Regions from separate parts of the Homo sapiens genome. Here region 2 is linked to region 1. The links come from fine-mapping of genetic effects on gene expression. A gene starts in region 1. The other region holds a variant in brackets. All regions are shown on one strand. Distances are from middle to middle. Region 1 holds the start of OCLN (occludin). Region 2 has its middle 24 kb from the start of OCLN.

Region 1 (9,345 bases):
TGCACTCCAGCCTAGATGATGGAGTGAGATTCTGTCTCAAAAAAACAATTAAAAAAAAAAGTATACAAGAGCATTTAGGCCATATGCAAATACAAAGCTATTTTATAACAAGGACTTCAGCATCCTCAGATTTTAGTATCATGGGGGTCCTGGAAGCAACCTCTCACAGATACTGAAGGGTGACTATATTGGTGGCATAAATGAGTCATTTTTAAAATGTAAACTGATTTTTTTTTTTTTTGAGACAGGAGTCTTGCTCTGTCATCCAGCCTGGAATGCAATGGCGTGATCTCGGCTCAATGCAACCTCCACCTCCCAGGTTCAAGCAATTCTCCCACCTCAGCCTCCTGAGTAGCTGAGATTACTGGCACATGCCACCAGGCCAGGCTAATTTTTGCATTTTTAGTAGAAACGGGGTTTCACCATGTTAACCAAGCTGGTGTCAAACTCCTGACCTCAGGTGATCCACCCACCTCAGCCTCCCAAAGTGCTGGGATTACAGGCATGAGCCACCATGCCCAGCCATAAACTGAATTTTTAAAAAGTCAATTCCATAGTACAGTATAGAGGAGAACTAATTTAATAATCGTTCTTTTTTTTTTTTGAGACGGAGTCTCGCTCTGTCGCCCAGGCTGGAGTGCAGTGGCGGGATCTCGGCTCACTGCAAGCTCCGCCTCCCGGGTTCACGCCATTCTCCTGCCTCAGCCTCCCAAGTAGCTGGGACTACAGGCGCCCGCCACTACGCCCGGCTAATTTTTTGTATTTTTAGTAGAGACGGGGTTTCACCGTTTTAGCCGGGATGGTCTCGATCTCCTGACCTCGTGATCCGCCCGCCTCGGCCTCCCAAAGTGGTTCATTTTTAAAGGTGCATTTCTTTGGTAAGAATTTCAACAAAAGCTAACAACCTATCCCAAACTTTATTCACAGAAATAGTGCTCATATCTAGGAATAATATGCTATTAAAAAGAACAAACAAAACCTGATTTGTACATCACATTCTAAACTATGTGCCTCTCCAGGAGGGTGACTAAGATCATTAAAGATCTAGAAAAGCTGGCCAGGCACCGTGGCTCACGCCTGTAATCCCAGCACTTTGGGAGGACGAGGCGGGTGGATCACAAGGAGATCGAGACCATCTTGGCCAACACGGTGAAACCTCGTCTCTACTAAAAATACAAAAATTAGTTGGGCATGGTGGTGTGTGCTTGTAATCCCAGCTACTTGGGAGGCTGAGGCAGGAGAATTGCTTGAACCCAGGAGGCAGAGGTTGCAGTGAGCCAAGATTGTGCCACCGCACTCCAGCCTGGCGACACAGTGAGACTCTGGCTCAAAAAAAAAAAAAAAAAAAAATCTAGAAAAACCATGTCTTAAGACAAATGATTGGAAAAACAGGAAATGTTTGGCCTGGAGAACTTAACGTCAGAAGAATCGCTTTAGCAGCCCTGAAATATATGAAGAGCTGTCTTTGTTATCCTAGAAATGGTTAAAAAAAAAAAATTCCAAAAACCACAGGCTGATTTCATCTCAATGTTAGGAAGCCTCTCCCTCACCCTGACCCCACACCCTCTCCGAAAATAACTAACAACAATTTGAGCTCATGCAATTTATGCAAAGCTTAAGTTATTTGATATTTTTTTGGAGACCAGACTGGAAGACTTCTAAGGTCTCTTTCAAAGTGAATCTGTGACTGTGCTTTAAGGCCAGCAGCCAAAGGTGAAAGAGGACCAATGCCCAGCACAGCAACATTAACAATCTGTACATGTGTTGAGTGAAGGAAAAAATGAGAATGAAGAGGCCACTTATCACCTACAGGAACTTATGTCAGGAGAGTGACAAGGACAGAAGTCAGACAGCTAAATTAGAGTCGGGGGCAAAAGGGAAGCAGCAGATAGATCCTTGTCAAATATGTTAATCTGAAAACCAGCATCTTGGGCTAATGATAAAATATAAAGTGTTCTCCCCTTGACAATGTTTACTGACCAAAAGCTGTCTTAATGGAAAACTAAGCTAAGATGAAAAAAACAGGCTGAGGCTGGGCAAGGTGGCTCACACTTGTAATCCCAGTACTTTGGGAAGCCAAGGCAGAGGGATTGTTTGAGCCCAGAACTTCAAGATCAGGCTGGGCAACAGAGTAAGACTCCGTTATCTATCTTAAAAAAAAAAAAAAAAAAAAAGTATAAAAAAAGAAAAAATAGTCTGAAAATGCTTTGGCCTCAAATTATTCTTTAAAGAAAACTGTCAATAAGTGAAAAATAAACTTTATTGTATTTAAGAGAAGTCTGTTCCTTTTAGAGCACATGCAGTAACTGTCAATTTGCCTTTAAAAAGTTTAAGTTGTGGCCGGGCGCGGTGGCTCACGCCTGTAATCCCAGCACTTTGGGGGGCCGAGACGGGAGGATCACGAGGTCAGGAGATCGAGACCATCCCCGCTAACACAGTGAAACCCCGCCTCTATTAAAAATACAAAAAATTAGCTGGGCATGGTGGCAGGCGCCTGTAGTCCCAACTACTCGGGAGGCCGAGGCAGGAGAATGGTGTGAACCCGGGAGGCGGAGCTTGCAGTAAGCCAAGATCGTGCCACTGCACTCCAGCCTGGGAGACAGCGAGACTCTGTCTCAAAAAAAAAAAAAAAAGTTTAAGTTGTGCCTTATATTAAATGATTTAGACTACAGGCACATCATTAGTAAATTGTCTAAAAATTTGAAGTTAGGCAGATTTTGTAATAGACTCTGTGTCAGAAATTGTATTTTTAATAAATCTTCCAGGTGATTTTTAAACACATCACATATTTTGAGAATTGCTGTCTACAATAAAGGTGTCAATCCAAAAAGGACATTGATCTTGCAATTTCCTGTCTAGAAAGCCCAGATCTTTTACACAACAGACACCTGCTGTTCAGGTCTCAGCTCAGACGTCACCTTCTGGGAGATGCCCTCCCTGTCCCTCACTCCATCACACAAAACTTGTTTTTTTTTTCAGAGCAAACTCCCCTCTGCCCTCATACCTAAAATATAGGTATCATCTCCACCGCATCTGGAATGCCCATATCCCAGACATCAAATGTCTATTTTGACCATCATTTATATCCCTGGTCGCTGGAACTAGCCCTGGCACAAAGTGATTGTCAATGAGTACTCAATTAATAAAACCAACAGTCAATTATTAGAGTTGGGATTTCAATCCAGCAGTGAATGCCTTGAAGTTCTTCACACAACACTCAATAAACGTTATTTTTTCCAACTTCAGTTTGTCAAATGTAATTAAGTGCGTAGAGTCTAAGAGAAAGGGAGAAAAAGAAGACAGAACAGTCTGAGAATCACCTGTGAGCCTGTTAGAAAGGCAGAATCCCAGGCCCCACTCCTGACCTCCCAATCAGAATCTGTGTTTTAATAGGATCCCTAAGTGATTCATACCACAGCCAAGACTGGAATCACTGGGTTACGGAACAGCGGCAAGCCTAGGGGTTAAAACAAAAAGCCTAACATAAATCTGCATGGTCTGTTTACTCTCTTATTTCCATAAATAGTAATTTGATGAAAAAGATCCATTAATATTCCAATCAAATAAGCCTTAAAATGCAACTGAAGAAAACTTCCTTCTGGGAGGTTCCTAGGAAGATGAAAGATATTACATCAGATCATTTATGTGGTTAAAAGTAATATACTATTTTGAAAAGGTAGTAATTCCAACACTACCTTTAGAAGAAAACAAGAATTTTACCTTGATATCAAGCAAAATGCGGGAAATCTTGTATCAGGCTACAGTTACTAGTCAATGGTAGAAAAGTCCAGAAAAATTCCCCAAATCTGGTTCTGGAATATCAAGGACCGCTGCTTCTGATACTCCTTCCCATATTAGCTGAAGCAGTTTGCAAGCAAGCCCACCTGCAACGTTTCCCCCACGGCATTTGCCCACTTTTAAAATGGAGTTCTACTAAGGCCTGCCTTTTAGAGTTGTTGGGATAATTAAATGAGAAAATACAGAATGCTTTTACCACAGTGCCTCACGTGCAGGAGGCACTGCTGCCCACTATTTCCCGAAATGGCCTGGAAACTGCCAAAAGGTGGAGAATCATGTCTTACCGATCTCCCTATCCTCTGCTCCGTCACCTAACAAAGGAGGCCCCTAATAACTAAATAAATTGCAAAACGACCAAAAAAAAAGTGTTGCTTTGTTTGAGGAAATATCTCTGCCTCCCACACACACTTAAGATGTCTATTTTAAAGCACCACTAAGAAAATATTCATAAAGGCTGGGTGTGGTGGCTTACGCCTGTAATCCCAGCACTTTGGGAGGCCAAGGCGGGCGAATCACCTGAGGTCAGGAGTTCGAGACCAGCCTGACCAAATGGCAAAACCCTGTCTCTACTAAAAATACAAAAATTAGCTGTGCATACTAGTGGGTGCCTGTAATCCCAGCTATTCGGGAGGCTGAGCAGGAGAATCGCTTGAACCCGGGAGGCAGAGGTTGCAGTGAGCCCAGATGATGCCACTGCACTGGGGGACAGAGCCAGACTCCGTCTCGGAAAAACACACACACACACACACACAAGCACCTCATATGTACAGTGCAAAAGAACTACTGTTACTATTGTTACACTTGGGAACGCCTAGTTTTCTATCACACCAAGAATCACCAAAAAACACCATAAGTGCCTTCATGGGAAACGTTTCTCTTTTCCAGGTATCCCAATAATACACCTGTTGCCTAAGGGCCACACACTGACTGGCCTGGAAAGCCGCCGCCTCCTCCTCGAGCAGGGTAATTCCCCAAGCGGGCAGTGTGGCCAGCGAGCCCCGGGTCCGGCCTAAGGATGCCGCGGCTTTTCCCTCGGGCCCGGTGGCTTCCCGAGGAGCGCGAGGGGCTCGGCGCCGCTCCCAACCCCTAGGCGCAGAGGCCATCTTGGCCCTCGACCCCTGCTCCCCGCACGCTTCCTCCGACGCAGGCAACATGGCTGGCGCGCGGGGCCGGCCCAGTCCCGGAGGTCCCCAAACTCCGTGGCCCGGCTGGGCGCGGGTCCCGGCTTCCGTGCGCACCGAGGCGCTCCCAGGCAGCGCGCGCCCACGTTCGCCGGGCAGGCACCGCCCGGAGGCAGTTCCGCCCCCCTGGGGGCAGCCCTTTTGGTCACGGATGAGAATCCGAAGCGTGAGCAGCTTCCCTCGAAGTCCAGCCTCACTCGAAATTAACTCCCCGCCCCCCAGCTTAAATCGACGCGGGTTCACACAACTCGCAACAAGTGGATTCGAAGTAGCCAGTGTGGCCCACACCGTGACTCCTGGAATATTTCACAGATTGAATCCAGCCCCCGTCTCCCCGGGATATCCAAAGGGGTGGGGTGGGAGCGGAAGGAATGAAATTCCCCCCGGGATCTAAGCCGCCCGGGCCGCCGAACAGCCGCCTCGCTGCAGCCTCAGGCTTAGGACCCCCAAGGAGCTGGGCGCAGGATCCCTCTCCATGAAGGCCGCCCCCCCAAACTGCAGCCCCAGAGCGGATGCAGGATCGTCGCTGTTCAGGAATGTCGTGCCCCATAAAAGTGAAAAGTTGCCCGCGCCGCTGAGGCACTGCTAGCTTTCAGCGTTTCCGCGGAATAAAGCTTGATCGGCGGCTCCAAGCCACCCCTCGCCCCAGGAGGCAGCCTCCCAAGTTGGCCGGTGCTGCTCTCTCCGCAGACCCGCGCCTCTCTGGTTCCCACGAGTCCCAGCTCGGGGACGAAACTGCCACCGAAACCAGCGCGGAGCGTCCTCCCCCCGGCACCTCCCCTAACATAGTCGCCGCGGTCCCCCCACGGGGACCCTCGGGCTCCCGTGCGCCCCTGACGCCGCGCCCAACACTCACCCGCTCGCCGCAACTGGGCCCGACCCTCCGGGGGCCAACGGTGCCAGGGAGCGCGCTCACCTGGCGGGCGCACCTGACGCCGCACCGACCGCCAGCGCTCAGCCGGGGACTGGGCTGGGGACGTCTCCTCCCCCTTCTCCCTCTCCTTTCCCTCCTCCCTACAACCGGCCCTGCCCCCGGGCATGCGCACCAACGTGGAAGGGGGTGCGGGAAGCCTGCGGGCCAGCGCCGCGAGTCCCACCTGCTGCGTCCTAGACCGGCTCCTCGGCGCTCTGGACCTGGCTCTCGGTTCCTGCCGCCTCCGCCAGAGGAAGCAGGGAGGGAGAGGTGGACGCGGGAGTGTAGGTGTGGTGTGTCGGCCTCCTCCCTCGGTGACCAATTCACCTGAAACTCGGATGGGAGGGGGCGGGAGGACGCGGTCCTGCTTCCCACACCCTGCCAGCGCGCTGTTAAAGGAACCGCGCGACGTTGCGGCCCGAGAGGCGGGGCGCAGAGGAGAGGCGCGGGCTCCTAGGGGGCAGCACGGATGGGGGTCCCTGACCACCCCGGGGTGCGTTCGGTGCTCCGCCTGCTTCGGATGGAACCTTGGGGTGTCTGATGGAGAGAGGCCGAACGAGGTCCAGAGGGGACTGTTTCCTCCGGAAAGAGGGTCCAGGCACTCAGCACTTTGATAGGAAAGGCACGTCCTCACAGGACACTTTTCTGCTTCCAGAATTTGATTAAACTGTTGCTGGAAAAAGGCATCTAGATGTATTGCTCCAACGAAAGACTCCTGGGAAAATTTCAAAAGTCGTGTGTAAACATTGGCGCTGTTTCTGAATCTCTAGATTCAGAATAAGAGACAATTACTTAGAGGGGTTAAAATGAGGGTGAACTACTGTAGGTGTTAGTTGCCATCCAGCAGGCTAAAGTGCATAATACAGTTTACACATCACCACCCCAGGGTCCTCTCCTGCCCACCCGGTCCGCTCTTGAGGACCGGGAAATTTAAACTATTATGGCTCTTTGGCCTGAGAAAAAGCACCTTATACGTTGTTTACCAACCTGTAGTGCTTTAAGAACAACACTACTTAAAAAGCAAAATAAACTTGGTTTACTTTTTTTTTTTTTTTAAGAAAACGAAAAAGCACCTTAGTTCCGGGTGCTGTATTCTATTTCTTGATCTGGATTCTGTTTCCAAGGGAAATTTCATAGTCTGCACTTAACACTGTGTATATTTTTATGTATGTTGGTTGTTTTTCAACATATTTTTTAATTGTACTCCAGGATGTGGCAATTATAGTTCTTGGCATTTAACTATCTGCATTGAAAGCGAACTTTTAGGTTTCTTACATCCTGCTTGTCTTTGTGTTCCAATCTGGAATGTCAGCATTGCTAATAAATTTCTATCCAATCCCACCCACTTCTCTACCTTTAATTAAATGGTTAGAGATGTGACTCTCCCATACATTAGATCTTAAGGCACAATTCATACTTGAGGAAGTAAAAGCACTATATAAATATGAGGTATTTCAGATGATGGCAGCTTTAATGGGTAATTAATTTAATTGGTATTTTTTTCGTGGAAGTCATTGCTACAAATGCTTTAATATGACTATGTAGTTTTTGAATGATGCAGTTTAAATTGGTATTGTTAACACTGGGGAAGTCAGGTTAATCCCCTTAATGTTCCCTGTCAGATTACTGAAATCTCCAAACATTCCATTTGGTTTATAATTAAACAAGGGAACATTTCCTAATACTCTCAGATTTGTAAACACATGTCTATTATTTTATAATGTATTTTGACATGTTCTGAAGAGATCTTAGGAGTTTTTTTCCACTTTATAAAAGAGAGTTCACATACCATAAAATTCACCCTTTTAAAGGGCACGTACAATTCAGTGGGTTTTAGTATACTCACCAGATTGTACAACCATCACCACCATCTAATTCCATTTTAATCGCCCCCAAAAGAAACCCCATGCCCATTAATAGTCACTCCCCATTTCCCCTCTCCCCTCATCCCTCGGCAACCACTAATGTACTTTCTGTCTCTATTAATTTGCCTATTCTGGACATTTTATATGAATGGATAATACAATATGTGCCCTTTGTGTCTGTCTTCTTTCACTTAGCATAATATTTTAAAGGTTCATCCATGATGTAGTATGTATTGGTACTTCATTCCTTTTTATAACTGAATAATATTCCATTGTATCGATGTATCACATTTCGTTTAATCATTCATCTGTTGATGAACATTTGGGTTGTTTCTCCTTTGGGGATGTTATGAATAATGTTACTATGAACATTTGTGTACAAGTTTTTGTGTGGACATATGTTTTCGGTTCTCTTGGTAAATTAGGTTTTTAAATTAAACTTTTTATCATTTTAAGATAACTTATGCATATCATGTTATTTTTCTTATTCCCACCCTAAACCTAAACTCAAAGACATGTTGTGTTGGGTAGAAGGCTTTCATATTCTATTTGCTTTCCCAATTCATTCCTTCAACTATTTTCTGAGTGCCTAATCTGTACACACACGAGTGAACAAAACTCAAAAATCTCTGTGAAACTTACTTTCTAGTTAGTTCTGAGTTCATCCATATGGAATAATAGGATTCATTAATTGTATGAATTCTATTTTATTCGCTTGAGATTAATTTTCTAAACAACAACATCAAAAGAACGGTTAACTATTGTCCAATATTGTGTATATTTCATAGTTGAAAGTGTCTAGAAAGAAAATCCAGCCTTAAAACTTAAACACATCATTCTTCAATACCAAAACAAAATTTGTTGGATGTTAAATGATGCCATGCTCAATTTAATCATGTTACATAATCATAAATTATAGCAAAATTTAATTACTATATTTTTTACCAAATATTCCTTCTTGGCAACTCACAGTAGTATTGAGTAGTATCCACTATTGAATATTATTTGATGAAAATCCCCGTGACTCAGAGCAATGTAAATATTATTTTCAGAACCCCATGATTAGAAACTTGTTGACTTTACCTGCAGTCAAATGGATAAGATGAAAAGACAATTTGTTTCTCCTTTTCTATGTGTAAAAGAGAAACTTAAGAGCTCAGATTATGGTGTCAGAAATCTCAGTTCAAATTCCAGTGTTGCTACTTGGTAGCTGGGTAGGACTAAAGGAAATTAAACTATGTAAGGTTCATTTTTTTCCACCGTAAATTTGAGATGATAATAAACAATACTGTCTTTATAAGTCTGTTGGTGGGAATGTGGAGCATTCACCAAGACAGACTATATGCTGAGCCACGAAACAAGTCTCAATAAATTGAGCAAGCCATTGCTGTATCCTATATGCCTGAAATAGTTCCTGTCACATAGGAATTACATAACTATGTGTTGGATGAATGAATGAATGACTATAGCCCTGCTTCCCAAATCCAACATGCCTGTGGAGTCTTGTCCTCCTCTCAGATGGCCTCCTGCTATTGTGAAACCCGCACGTTCCTTAGTAGCATTTCAAGGCTTACATCTCTAGTACTAG
Region 2 (9,345 bases), 25 kb after region 1:
AGTAATTGACCTGAGATTCAAACACAGTTTGACTGTATATCTTACATTATGTCCAATATACCACACTGCCTTTAAGAAACTATCTTCAGGCCGGGCATGGTGGCTTACACCTGTAATCTCAGCACTTTGGGAGTCTGAGGTGGGCAGATCACCTGAGGTCGGGAGTTCAAGATCAGCCCGACCAACATGGAGAAACCCCGTCTCTACTAAAAATACAAAATTAGCTGGGCGTGGTGGCGCATGTCTGTAATTTCAGCTACTCGGGAGGCTGAGGCAGGAGAATGGCTTGGACCCGGGAGGCGGAGGTTGCGGTGAGCCGAGATCGCACCATTGCACTCCAGCCTGGGCAACAAAAGCAAAACTCTGTCTCAAAAAAAAAAAAAAAAAAAAACTATTTTCACTGCAGAGTCTTAGCACATCAATGTATTGTCAAACATAAGGGAAAATATTAGCCTTAGAAACAAAAACATAGGTGCGGTTTCCTTCAGCAAACTCCACAACTCAATAAATCAATCGGACAAATAGACTGGGTACAATGGCTCATGCCTGTAATCTCCACACTGGGGGAGGCCGAGGTGGGAGGATCACTGGAACCCAGGAATCCAGGATCAAGCTGGGCAGCACAAGACCTTATCTCCACGAAAAAAGTTTTAAAATTAGCCGGGTGTGGTGGCAAGCACCTGTAGTCCCAACTACTTGGTAGGCTGAGGTGGGAAGATTGCTTGAGCTCAAGAGGTTGAGGCTGCAGTGAGCCATGATCACACCACAGCACCCCAGCCTGGGTGACAAAGTGAGAACCTATTAAAAAAAAAAAGTTTGGGTGTGGTGGCTCACACCTGTAATCCCAGCACTTTGGGAAGCCAAGGCGGGAGGATCACTTGAGCCATGGAGTTCGAGACCAGCCTGGGCAACATAGTGAGAACCTGTCTCTATTTTTTAAAATAGTCCAAATAACCACCCATTATCTGTACCTATAATTAGCCTGAAAGTTAGAGACAACATATCATTATCATGGCCTTCTAGGGACAACATATCAAACTATCAAAGAAGTAGTGAAATTGAATATTTCTCTTGTATTCCTTCCCTTTGATATCAGTTCTGGCAACACAAGAGAAGAAAAGAGGGAAACATCCAAAGGAAATCCAGTTATGAACTCAGCTCTGTCAGAAATCAGCTGCGTAGTTTTTTTAAATTATACTTTAAGTTCTGGGATACATGTGCAGAGCATGCAGGTTTGTTACATAGGTATACATGTGCCATGGTGGTTTGCTGCACCCATCAACCCGTCATCTAGGTTTTAAGACCCGCATGCATTAGGTATTTGTCCTAATGTTCTCCCTCCCCTTCTCCCCCACCCCCCTACAGGCCCTGGTATGTGACGTTCCCCTCCCTGTGTCCATGTATTCTCATTGTTCAACTCCCACTTATGAGCGAGAATATGCAGTGTTTGGTTTTCTGTTCCCGTGTTAGTTTGCTGAGAACGTTGGTTTCCAGCTTCATCCATGTCCCTGCAAACAACGTGAATCATTCTTTTTTATGGCTGCATAGTATTCCATGGTGTATATGTGCCACATTTTCTTTATCCAGTCTATCATTGATGGGAATTCGGGTTGGTTCTAAGTCTTTGCTATAGTGAATAGTGCTGCAATAAACATGCATGTGCATGTGTCTTTATAGAATGATTTATAATCCTTTGGGTGTATACCCAGTAACAGGATTGCTGGGTCAAATGGTATTTCTGGTTCTAGATCCTTAAGGAATCGCCACACTATCTTCCACAATGGTTGAACTAGTTTACACTCATACCAACAGGGTGAAAGCATTCCTATTTCTCTCCACATCCTCTCCAGCATCTGTTGTTTCCTGACTTTTTAATGATTACCATTCTAACGGGTATACATGTGCCATGAGATGGTATCTTATTGTGGTTTTGATTTGCATTTCTCTAATGACCAGTGATGATGAGCTTTTTTTCATATGTTTGTTGACTGCATAAATGTCTTCTTTTGAGAGGTGTCTGTGCATATCCTTTGCCCACTTTTTGATGGGGTTCTTTGTTTTTTTCTTGTAAATTTGTTTAAGTTCCTTGTAGATTCTGGATATTAGACCTTGTCAGATGGATAGATTGCAAACATTTTCTCCCATTCTGTAGATTGCCTGTTCACTCTGATGATAGTTTCTTTTGCTGTGCAGAAGCGCTTTAGTTTGATTAGATCCCATTTCTCAATTTTGGCTTTTGTTGCAATTGTTTTTGGTGTTTTAGTCATGAACTCTTTGCCCATGCCTATGTCCTGAATGGTATTGCCTAGGTTTTCTTCTAGGGTTTTTACGGTTTTAGGTCTTATGTTTCAGTCTTTAATCCATCTTGACTTAGTTTTTGTATAAGCTATAAGGAAGGGGTATAGTTTCAGTTTTCTCCATATGGCTAGCCAGTTTTCCCAGCACCATTTATTAAATAGGGAATCCTTTTCTCATTGCTTGTTTTTGTCAGGTTTGTCAAAGATCAGATGGTTGTAGATGTGTGGTGTTATTTCTGAGACCTCTGTTCTGTTCCATTGGTCTATGTATCTGTTTTGGTACCAGTACCATGCTGTTTTGGTTACTGTAGTCTCATAGTATAATTTGAAGTCAAGTAGCAGCTGTGTAATTCTAAGCAAGACATTTAATCTGCCTTTACCACTCACAATAATGTCTCTGTGTTAGTCCATTTGCATTGCTATAAAGAAATATCAGAGACTGGGTAATTTATTTATTTTTTATCCAAAATGTGTTTATTGAGGCCAGGCACAGTGGCTCATGCCTGTAACCTCAGCACTTTAGAATGTCGAGGTGAGCAGATCACCTGAGGTCAGGAGTTCAAGATCAGCCTGGCCAACATGATGAAACCCCAAAATAAGCCGGGCATAGTGGCGCATGCCTGTAATCCCAGATACTCAGGAGGCTGAGGCAGGAGAATTGCTTGAACCTGGTAGGCGGAGGTCGCAGTGAGCCAAGCTCACACCACTGCACTGCAGCCTGGGCGACAAGAGTGAAACTCAGTCTCAAAAAAAAAAAAGTGTTTATTGAGATGATTTCCCACTCATCTTGATTCGGAGTGCTTTTTAATGCTGCTTCCTCCTGAAGGAACATCCTTCTGTAAGCCTTGCTTTTCTTTCTGTAGGCTGGCAGAGGACAGTGGAGCAGCCAACACACAAAATTTCTGTTAGTGCATGGCTAAAGACTGTGATGATTTTGTACCATCCTGGGCATTTACACCCATGAAGTAGGAATTGGGGCTCTGCATCAGGCACTGCTTCTTGTGTTTCCTCTTCCCCTATTCTGGAGAGGGATGAAGGAGATCCTTTGTGAGAGGCATGTTCTCCTGGGTAGGTCGTCACCGCTGGAAAAAGACTGGGTAATTCGCAAAGAAAAGAGGTGGCCGGCCACAGTGGCTCACGCCTGTAATCCCAGCACTTTGGGAGGCCGAGGTGGGCGGATCACCTGAGGTCAGGAGTTCAAGACCAGCCTGGCCAAAATGGTGAAACCCCATTTCTACTACAAATACAAAAATTAGCTGGGCGTGATGGCGGGCACCTGTAATCCCAGCTACTTGGGAGGCTGAGGCGGGTGAATCGCTTGAACCTGGGAGGCGGAGGTTGCAGTGAGCTGAGATTGCACCATTGCACTCCAGCCTGGGCGACAAGAGTGAAACTCCGTCTCAAAAAAAAAGGAGAGAGGAAAAAGAAGAGGTTTAATTGGCTCACCGTTCTGCAGGCTGTATAGGAAACATGGCACCAGCATCTGCTTGGCTTCTAGTGAGGCCTTAGGGAGCTTTTACTCATAGCAGAAGGCAAAACAGGAGCAGACATGTCACATGGTGAGAGTGAGTGGTGGAGGTGGAGGAGGTGCCACACTTTTTTAAACAACCAGAGCTCTCAAGAGCTCTCAGAGCGAGAACTCCCTTATTATTGTGAGGACAGCACTAACCCATTTATGAGGAATCTGCCCCCATGACCCAAACACCTCACACTAGCCCACCTCCAACAGTGGGGATCACATTTCATCATAAGATTTGGAAGAGACAAAACATCCAAACCTTATCAGTCTGTGAAAATGTTTGGAAGAATAAAGTGCTACTAGCAGTTGAGCCATTCAATATTTAAGGGCAAGCTGCTTCCATGGGCTTGGTCTTAGGAGGGAATTAAAGAATAGCTAAGGTGAAACCAACTCAATAGTCCCATAGACAGTTCTGGTCTTAAGCTTGAACCTTACATTTGTATTATCTGAGTTCCTTCCTCAGGAAAGGACCCTCAAAAGCCTCTCAAAAAGTACCTGAAGAAAAAGAACTGAAACTCACCAGATCGTTGCATCCAGACAATGAGACACCAGGCCCTTCATTCATCATGATTGCTTCCTTACCCCTCTCAAGTTGAGTTCCTGTTTTCCCATGCATAGTTACATTTCTTCCCTGCTAGATTAACCCCTAATTATAGTCAGTCAGGAGATGAATTTGAGACTAGTTCCCATGTCTTCAGCTGCAGCACCCAATTAAAGCTTTCTTCCTTGGCAATACTCATTGTCTCAGTGATTGGTTTTCTGTGCTATGAGGAGCAGGACTTAGACTGAATACCTGCTATTATGGTAACAAAAGCATGGTCTATGCTGGAGGCATCTGTGGTTTTTGCATGTCTAGCTTCTATTAGAGCACACATGCAGCTTTTCATTTATAACTCACCCTTCTTCAGCCCAGCGCAGTGGCTCATGCCTGTAATCCCAGCACTTTGGGAGGTCAAGTGGGTGCATCACGAGGTCAGGAGATCAAGACCATCCTGGCTAACACGGTGAAACCTCGTCTCTACTAAAAATACAAAAAAATTAGCCAGGCGTGGTGCCAGGCGCCTGTAGTCCCAGCTACTCTGGAGGCTGAGGCAGGAGAATGGCGTGAACCCGGGAGGCAGAGATTGCAGTGAGCCAAGATCGCACCACTGCACTCCAGCCTAGGCAACAGAGTGAGACTCCATCTCAAAAAAAAAAAAAGAAAAAGAAAAAGAAAAAAAAACCTTATCTTTCTTCCATTCCATGAGGTCCTGACGGGATTGTGTTCTGCCCACACATTAGCGGATATGAGATCCAGGCTGCCTCATCTGATGTGGTGATAGGTTCAAAGATGGACACATAACCCAAACCAAGACCTATCAGACGCTTCCAGAGACATGATAGAAAGCTGCTGGAAGAGAGCCACTTCCCTGTAACCCACTACGTGCTTATGTACTGGAGCTGACACCAGGCATCTTCCGCAGTTACACAGAGAAAGTCTAAACATGACAGCATGAGACTAAATATGCTGTGAGAAGCAGTGAAGATGAGAGAAACAGACTGAAAGGGAACCCTGAAGCCAAGTCAGCTCCTAAACTTCTCAGTTCTCTAATTCAAAAGAGTCCCTTGTATGCATAAGCTGATTTGAGTTTCTGTTATTAGAAACCAAAGCCGTTCTGACTAATACAGTTTCAGTCCTCAAATTCATATCTTATGAAATTTGATAGTTATTTACTTAATAAGAGACCATTTAAAAAATATCAGCTAATTCTGAAACATACAAGCTCAGTTTAAGCATCTTATGATGACCTCAGCACCCTAGAAGGCCTGTTTCTAGAGAACACTACTTCTGCTCTCAATAGTGGAGATGGGTGGTTAGCAATAGTTGTGTTGTACCTAAACCTGTTATTCCCACTTGTACTTGCTACTACATGTGTGTACGTATGTGTATGATTTAATTAAATATTATTTAAATGATAAAATATGATGCGGGCCAGCTGCTGTGGCTCA[G/A]GCCTATAATCCCAGTACTTGGATAGGCCAAAGTGGGTGGATCACCTGAGGTCAGCAGTTCAAAACCAGCCTGGCCAACATGGTGAAACCCCGTCTCTACCAAAAACACAAAAATTAGTCAGGCATGATCGTATGCACCTGTAAACCCAGCTACTCAGGAGGCTGAGGCAGGAGAATCACTTGAACCTGGGAAGTGGAGGTTGCAGTGAGCTGAGATCATGCTGTGTCCGGAATTGGTTCCTTACGGTGGATTCTTGGTCTCGCTAACTTCAAGAATGAAGCTGCAGACCCTCGTGGTGAGTGTTACAGTTCTTACACGTAGTGTGTCCGGAGTTTGTTCCTTCAGATGTTCAGATATGTCCAGAGTTTCTTCCTTCCGGTGGGCTCGTGGTCTAGCTTGACTTCAGGAGTGAAGCTGCAGACCTTCGCAGTGAGTGTTACAGCTCTTAAATGTGGCGCATCCAGCGTTGTTTGTTCCTCCCGGTGGGTTCGTGGTCTCACTGATTTCAGGAGCAAAGCTGCAGACCTTCGCAGTGAGTGTTACAACTCATAAAGGTAGTGCGGACCCAGAGGGAGCAGCAGCAAGATTTATTGTGAAGAGCAAAAGAACAAACCTTCCACAGCCTGGAAGGGGACCCGAACTGGTTGCTGCTGCTGGCTCCGGTGGCCAGCTTTTATTCCCTTATTTGGCCCTGCCAACGTCCTGCTGATTGGTCCATTTTACAGAGTGCTAATTGGTCCATTTTACAGAGTGCTGATTGGTCCATTTTTACAGAGTGCTGATTGGTGTGTTTACAAACCTTTAGCTAGTCACAGAGCACTGATTGGTGCATTTTTACAGAGTGTTGATTGGTGCATTTACAAACCTTTAGCTAGACACAGAGCGCTGATTGGTGCATATTTAGAGTACTGATTGGTGTGTTTACAAACCTTTAGCTAGACACAGAGTGCTGATTGGTGTGTTTACAATCCTCTAGCTAGACAGAAAAGTTCTCCAAGTTCCCACCCAACCCAGAAGCCCAGCTGGCTTCAATTCTCAATGCCACTGCATTCCAGCCTGGGCTACAGAGTGAGACCCTGCCATAAAAACAAACAAACAAAAACCACACAAATAACATAAAATAAAATATGATGACCCCAACAGAAAGGTGTTTCTAGGCTGGGCACGGTGGCTCATGTCTGTAATCCCAGCACTTTGGGAGGTGGAGGTGGGTGCATCACGAGGTCAGGAGTTTGAGACAAGCCAGGCCAACATGATGAAATCCTGTCTCTACTAAAAATACAAAAATTAGTCAGGTGTGGTGGCATGCACCTGTAATTCCAGCTACTCAGGAAGCTGAAGCAGGAGAATCTTTTGAACCTGGGAGGGAGAGGTTACAGTGAGCTATGATCGCACCATTGCACTCCAGCCTGGGCGACGTAGTGAGACTCTGTCCCAAACAAACAAACAAACAAACAAAAAGGTATTTCTATAAAAATCAAGTTAATTGTTAAAAGACTCATAATGATGTTGCTTTAGAAAAAAAAAATGTTGGCTAGGTAGGGTGGCTCACGCCTGTAATCCCAACACTTTCGGAGGCTGAGGCTGGAGGATCCTGTGAGCCCAGGAGTTTGAGACCAGCCTGGGCAGCATGGCAAGACCCCCTCTCTATGAAAAAATTAAAAATTAGCCAGGCGTGGTGGCACACACCTGTGGTCCTAGCTACTCAGGATCCTGAGGTGGGAGGATCACTTAATCCCACAAGGTCAAGGCTGCAGTGAGCCGTGTTCACACCACTGCACTCCAACCTGGGTAACAGAGCGAGACTCTGTCTCTAAAAAAAATTAATTAATGAAAAATGAAAAATGAAAAAAAATTAAGACAAACTATGGCACCCATATGTCACTTTTTGATGTTTAGCTTTAATCTACTTTTTTGAATTGACATTCTAATTACTGATCCCAGCTGTGTCAGGTAAGAGAGCAACAATCTGTTGACTTCAAAATTATCTTACCTGAACAATAGGAGATATGAACTTACTTAGGGGTTGGAAGATTTATTTTAATTATGACCCCACAGAAAAGATTCAAGACAACAAAACTTTAAGATAAGACTTTCTAATATATTAGGTAACAGAGTAAACTTAAATGAGATATTTGTTTACCTTTATTTTTATTTATTATTATTTATTATTATTTTTTGATGGGGTCTTGCTCTGTCACCCAGGCTGGAGTGCAGCGGCAAGATCTCGGATCACTGCAGCCTCCACCTCCTGGGTTCAAGCAATTCTCCCACCTAAGCTACCTGAGTAGCTGGGATTACAGGGGCACGCCACCACACCTGGCTAATTTTTGTATTTTTAGTAGAGACAGGGTTTCACCATGTTGGGAAGGCTGGTCTTGAACTCTTGACCTCACGTGATCCACCCACCTTGGCCTCCCAAAGTGCTGAGATTACAGGCGTGAGCCACTGCACCCCGGCCTATTTTTATTTTTTAATATTTATTTATTTTTGAGACAGAGTTATGCTCTTGTTGCCCAAGCTGGAGTGCAATGGCGTGATCTCGGCTCACCGCAACCTCTGCCTCCCGGGTTCAAGCAATTCTCCTGCCTCAGCCTCCCGAGTAGCTGGGATTACAGGCATGCGTCACCACACCCAGCTAATTTTGTATTTTTAGTAGAGACAGGGTTTCTCCATGTTGGTCAGGCTGGTCTTGAACTCCCGACCTCAGATGATCCGCCCGCCTTGGCCTTATTTTTATTTTTTTAGAGACGGAGTCTGACTCTGTCACCCAGGCTAGAGGGCCGTGGTGTGATCATAGCTCACCACAGCCTTGAACTCCTGGGTTACAGTGATCCTCCCGCCTTGTTCTCCCAAAATGCTGGTATTACAGGCATGAACCACCATGCCTGGTTGCAGTCTTACCTGTTTTTTTTCAAAAATGTTCTGACTATTCCATCCTATTGTAGCCTCTTCAGAATTCTCTCTCTCCAGGATTTAAGGCGCTATCAAGGTCTGTCAATCCTGAGATGAGTTATGTGAAAGTATTTAAGAAAGGATAGGGCCGGGAGCGGTGGCTCACGCCTGTAATCCCAGCACTTTGGGAGGCCAAGCCGGGTGGACCACGAGGTCAAGAGATCGAGACCATCCTGACCAACATGGTGAAACCTCGTCTCTACTAAAAATACAAAAACTTAGCCAGGCATGGTGGTGGGCAACTGTAGTCCCAGCTACTCGGGAGGCTGAGGCAGGAGAATCACTTGAAACTGGGAGGTGGAGGTTGCAGTGAGCCGAGATTGTGCCACTGCACTCCAGCCTGGGTGACAGAGCAAGACTCCATCTTAAAAAAAAAAAAATGATAAGGACTAAGGACTATATACATGTAAAAGTATAGTACTTCCTTCTCTTTCTCATTCTGTCTCTCTCTCTCTTTCTCTCTTTCTTTCACAGGATCTTGCTCTGTTGCCCAGGCTGGAGGGCAGTGGTGAGATCATGGCTCACTGCAACCTGGAACTCCTGGGCTCAAGTGATCCTTCTGCCTCCTGCCTCAGCCTCCAGAG

Evidence for each region.
Region 2: its variant is fine-mapped to the expression of OCLN in whole blood (TOPMed, PIP above 0.99).

The regions. Positions count from the first base shown.
Region 1 is chr5:69,489,391-69,498,735 of GRCh38, reverse strand. It overlaps OCLN (occludin), which reads right to left and starts at 5,946. Exons shown (of 9, transcript NM_001205254.2): 1 at 5,836-5,946.
Region 2 is chr5:69,463,893-69,473,237 of GRCh38, reverse strand. It overlaps the pseudogene RPS27P14. Among named protein-coding and RNA genes, the nearest start is that of OCLN, 24 kb to the left of the region's middle. The variant G/A (reference allele first, on the strand shown) is at 5,806.